2 separate regions of the Homo sapiens genome follow, and region 1 is linked to region 2. The links come from fine-mapping of genetic effects on gene expression. A gene starts in region 2. The other region holds a variant in brackets. All regions are shown on one strand. Distances are from middle to middle.

Region 1 (2,929 bases), 690 kb after region 2:
AACATTCTGTTTCAAAAACATAAAGAAAAATGCTCAGGAGAATAAATGACACATCACAGTAAAAACTGTCTCTATATAATCATTTTCTAATATTTTCCATTAGGGAAATATTAGAGATTGGCCTTCTAATTTTGACTGTCCCCCTAGAAATGTCTAGTCAATCTGAGTAAATTGTTAGCCCTTATAGTCTTCACCTATAATTATATATATATGTATATATAATTATTTAAAGATTGTTGCATAGTCTTTCCAGGAAAATATGGCTCTGTCATTTGAGGCTCACATGATGGAGTGGTTATTGAAACATCAGTCGTTTTAGCCAATAACATGAACAGAAGACATTTTAGCCCATCAAATTTAAGCCAGGCATACAGACCCTGGTACCTGTTGGCAGACTTGTCCAAAGTGAGCACCTCTTGATTTATGAATAATCTGTACTTCCAGAATCACTGTTTTCTCCTATATGCAGGGACACACCACCACCTCAGGAGACCAATAAAGCTCAAAATGTTTTGACAACGTTAGAAATTGTATGAAAAGAATTAATAGTGGCATCTCAAAAACTAAATATTTTGTTCTCTTCAAGTACTGACCAAGAACGGAAGAGGCTTCATGGAAAAGCTACTTGAGAAGTTCTGGAAAACAAATCTTTAGCACTCAGTCCTTTTTTCTGTGTTGATGCGTCATTTGAGGCACTGCTATTTATGAGCCTACAGCTGAGGACTCTGTAGTGCCAGACAACTTAATCTTCCCTGATGTTATGGACTGAATGGTCGTGTACCCCCTTTCCACCAAAATTCATGTGTTGAAGCCCTAACCCTAGGGGTGGCTGTAACTGGAGTATGAAACTAATCAAGGTTAAATGAGTATAGGGCTCTGATCTGATTAGTGTCCTTACAGGAAAAGACACAGAGCTCACTCTCTTTCCTTCTCCATGTGCACACACTGAGGAAAGGCCATGTGAGGACACAGCAAAAACATGGCCATCTGCAAGGCAGGAAGAGTGTCCTCACCAGAAACTGAATTGGCTGGAAACTTGATCTTGGACTTCTGGCATCCAGAACTGTGAGAAAATAAATTTCTGTTTTTTAAACCGCCCAGTCTACGGTATTTTGTTATGGCGGCCCAAGCCGACTAATATATCCAATAACCTAGCAAGGGAGGAGAGGACAAAAAGACATTTCCTTCCTCTTTTTCAAAATGAGATCCCATACATTTCCAAGGATGTGTAAAAATATTAATATCTTGCTTTTACATACTATGTTTATACCCATAGTTCTATTTATTCTTCACAATCTTTCAGTTAGTCGGACGTAACATTAATAATCCAATTTTACAGATGAGATAGAAGGAAGCTAAGCCAAGAGCTTTTGACTCCTAGCC[G/A]GATGCAGATGCCTTGGAGTATGCCTACAGATCTTTCCATTCCTGAGTGTGCTTGCAATTAGAGCATTTTGAGGAAGTCCTGCACTCGTTCAAGAATAAAACACTAGACTCCAAAAGTTACTTCTTAACAGATAAGCATAATCACAAAGAGAACAGTAGCCATAAATAATGTTGAAGAGAAAAAAAATTTTTAAGTTGGAACTGTGCTCATTTTCAATAATTTTCATTATTAATTTAGAGTTATAGTAATTTCCACCTTTCAATGAAAGCTTTTTTATACACCACATTTCAGCTTTGGATATCTGTGACACAAAGGAATAAATCTTGGTCACTTCTTATCCTTGAACACATTATGTACAGCTCCTACTAGGAGAAAAAGCTCAGCTACAATATGAAGTTCAGAACATCCACACTTCTGATTAATCTGGAGCAGTGGAACATTTAAAGAAATAGGTTCTCTCTGGAGAACCAATGCTCTGCATTCCATTGAGAGGCCCTTCTATAGGCCTTGGTGCTATATTTCAAAAATCTAGGCCCTGAATGGCACAGCATTAATAAAGATTTAGCAGCCAAATAATTGCACTAACATGACTTTAGCATAGAACAACATATACTTTTAGGCTCATCTTTCTGTTGTGTAAATCAATGATGAAAAACTTCAAAAATTGGACCAATGTTAGACTGCTTAGGGTAATTGATTTGGAACATGTTTAAGACATTTTTTATCCATCTATGAATTCTTAAATATTTCTTATGCCTAAGAGGCAGCCAAAAATGCCTTTCAATGACCTTTGGTATTGACTCTTCCTAATAGAGAATGTCTCTGTTTGCTCCCATTTCAATGGCTCTTGAGGATGACTACCTAATGCTGGGGAAAATGTTGGCTGCTTTTAGCAGGCACGCCTGTCAATACCAACAGTTATACCATTCTACTCTTTCAGTTCAGTATCCATTGTACTGGAAAATGAAGCCCTATCTCTGAGTATTTATTCCTCTCCAGATTGGCTGTCAAAAGCTCTTTATGTTGAATTTCTTTCTTATTTGGCCCTCAAAAGAGTCAGTCTCTCCTAATTGATCTGCAAATGATTATCACATTCAGAAAAAAATGGAATCTTTGTCTAATATACAACATAAATTTGAGTTATAGTAGTATTTTGTTTGTAGATTTTTTGTGTGCACCTAGAGAAAAGAGATTTTAAAATCAAAAACATAAAAAAATTAATGAAAAAAATTAAAAATGATTTAAGGCATCATAAATAACCTAAATATCCACTAATAGAGGGTTGATATAGATCAGATGTAATATGATAAATATGTAGCTATATAGATTTATGATGATATTTCCATTCAGTAAAGTACTCTGCTTCTAATATAAATGATACTATGACAATGAAGCTTCTGCTTCTACAGAGCAGACTATGCACTAGGTGTTTATATCTCCTTCCTCAAAAATGTCTATAAAAATAACAGCAAAGAAATATGGAGGGCAGTTATCTCAGCACTAGGAAAGGAAGACAAAGCCATCAGCAGACCAGAAATTTGTTAA
Region 2 (2,929 bases):
ACAATGAATATTCTGATCTTGCTCAGATGCCTTTAAAATATCTTATTCTGTCCTTGCCAACATACCTCTGGTTAAGACTTGTTTCTCTACTATCAGTTTTATTAAAAGAAAACATAGAAACTAGATACCTGTCATGCCCTGTAAGCAGTATTGTTGCCAATTCAATTTGATTTAGATAAGTTAATAAGCAAGAAACAAGTTCCTTTGTAACATTAGAAACCTTAAATGTTGATATGTATAGTGTTTGTACAAAGTATCTACACAGTACTTACCACAGAGACCATTATTTCTTTCATAACTTTTTGTTTTCATTGCACAATGAGTAAAAGCGGCTAGTATAATAAGCATTTTCTATATTAATCTGTAAACATACTTTCAATGAATCATTCATATGGTTTTGGGATTCTTTTATTTTATCCCATGCTGTTTGTTTTGATTGTATGTATTAAAATTTATTTCTATGTGTATTGAATCTAATAACAAAAGATTGGGGCTTATATTTCATATGTTTTTACTTTTGTATTTCTTTTTTTCTAGTAATTCATTTATATAATGTTTTACCAAAAATGTCTGCAAAAGATTAAATTAAAAAAATAGTCATTCAACCACAGATGATTTGAACAGCATGTCTACACTGGACCAGGTTGCTTTGCTGTTCTTTCCTGGGAGCAGCTCGCAGGAGATGCCTGGAAGCGGGCTGGCTGTGTCCTCAGGGCTGAGTTTGCAGACTGCCGGTTTAAAATGGAGATCTGCTGAGCCATTGTGGAAGAAAGTTCTCAGGACAATTCCTAGTTCAGCAAAACTGTGGGCTTAGAAGGGAGCATGGCAGGGAAGGGAGTGATAAAGCAAAATATTCAGGTGGCAGGGCATAATTATATTATTTTAATTTAGACACATTAATAGAGCAATACAGATCCAATTATCAGCAAGATTAATAAACACAGCTTAAGTTTCCAATTAGTGGAGGTAGAGATGGAGGTGGAGGGGTGATGAAGGCAAGGGAATGAAAAAAATGTGACCAAGTCAGCCAACGTAAGAAAATAGAAAAGAGGAAATAACAATAAAGAATAAGGAATAGTAAACCTAAAATCAGATGAAATGGCAAGGCATGTGCATCTCTTTTCATGTAAGATATGAATGGTCTAAAATCATCAATCAAATAACAGAAAACTTCAGATTGAGTTCAGAAAATATTACACTATCTGTTGCTTATAGATATTTCACACACCACAAAGTGGCCAAGAAAGTTTGAAAAGTTCTTGTAGATGTGTGACAGTCATGCAGTATGCACTTCATATAGCTGTTTATTATTTAATTTTATGAGGGATGTTGACCAGCTGTGGTTTTAGAGAATTAAACTGGGCTTGGATTCATGCTAAAGGAAATAAACAAACTTATGGAGAAAAAGACATCACTATCTTTTCATGATTCTCACTGGGAACATTGTTCTGCTAGAAGTGGAGAAAACAGGAGAGACAGAAGGAGAATCAGTCTCTTTAGGATATGTCTTGCCAAGAGGGCATGTTTCCTACCAGTTGGATGGAACCCTGTGGTGGTGGCGGTGGCTAGGCAGCTTCCTGGGAGCACTTCTTCCTGCCGTTCTCCTTACAACCCACCAGGAGCCTGTCCTGGCGGGCGCTTTAGAAGGCAGGACTGCCTTGGGATGCATTGGGTTTTTCCACCCACACTAGTTCCCGCCCTTTGGGGACAGGAAAAGGCAGTTGGGATCCAAATAGACTGATTACTCTCTTTTATGGAATTCCTCCAGATACAACAGTAATTCAGTTCACATTGCTCATCAACGTGCAGGCCACATGTCTCTGGATGGTCCCTGTATATTTGAACATTCTTCACTTGCTCTGATGTTTTCCCCAGCTTCCAGATGTTCTTGGGAGATTACAAAACAGACAAGAATAGAAATTGAAAATTTTGAAAGCATATTTTAGTCTCTATATAATATAAATTTAGCGTAAGTCAAGCTAAGAGATTAAACCTGATGTGCATAAGAGTATTTTCTTTGGATGCAAATGTAGAGGAAAAACACACATTTGATGTTGGAAACTAAGTATGCTTATTTTCTGTTGGCCTTTGCCTTGAACCTAGTTCTGTAATGGGCACATAGCAGATATTCAATACATCGTGTTAAATTAATGTCATTTAGCAAAGTGAATTTTATCCACAAACTTTTGTCATAATAAAAACATGATTCGGAGTTGTTATGTGGTCTGATCCACGAAGAAGAGCTAAAATTACAATGCTGAGCTAAAAGTTGAAGTGAAATGTACCCAGTTAGAATCATGTAAGCAAACAGGGTTATTAGTACTAGTAGTACTTGAAAATGTGAGTGGAAGACTAAATGACAGAGATGTTTTGCATTGACTTTCATGTTTTCTCCTCAAGTCCAAGATACATTGCACTAAAGGTTGGAGTTCCAGTCATGTAGAGTGAAGACAGGTCTTCATATTAAACACAGCTAGAGCCTAAATGAGAAATAAGTTCCCTTTTCATTGAAACAACTGAACATTTTCTTTCTGAGTTTGCCAATTGTAGATGGTTGGTGGGCAAGAGAATGTATGCTTTGAACATTATTGGAGTTGTTGTGTGAGCATGAGAGAGACTCAACCTTGTCAATAGAATCAGTTTGTCCCCACTATCCTAGCCCGGATTATTACCTACTCTATTCTCAAGATGTAATCAAAAGAGAAGATACCTCTAGCACAAAGCCACGACCATCTGTAGACAGATGATGCAGTGGCCTTTGAACTGGTGGTGACCAGAACAGTAGCCTCATGGGAATGAAAGTGTTTTTATAACACTGTGCCATATTACCTCTGTTTTTTGAAAGACTTCAAGAATATATGTAAGACAGTTCTTATAAATTTTCATCATTTATGGGTGGTGTCCAAACATTTAGACATTTGGAGTTTAT

Direction of the effects. Positions count from the first base shown, and alleles are read on the strand shown. Sizes are in standard deviations (SD) of each study's normalised expression.
As copies of A replace G in region 1, the expression in thyroid of the gene that starts at base 1,641 in region 2 goes up (small effect, 0.28 SD a copy in GTEx).

The links. PIP is the estimated chance that this variant, and not a neighbour inherited with it, causes the effect.
Region 1: its variant is fine-mapped to the expression of LINC00517 in thyroid (GTEx, PIP above 0.99).

Annotation. Positions count from the first base shown.
Region 1 is chr14:38,592,265-38,595,193 of GRCh38, forward strand. No RefSeq gene overlaps it. Among named protein-coding and RNA genes, the nearest start is that of LINC00639, 320 kb to the right of the region's middle. The variant G/A (reference allele first, on the strand shown) is at 1,384.
Region 2 is chr14:37,900,484-37,903,412 of GRCh38, forward strand. It overlaps LINC00517 (long intergenic non-protein coding RNA 517), which reads right to left and starts at 1,641. Exons shown (of 2, transcript NR_135286.1): 1 at 1,533-1,641.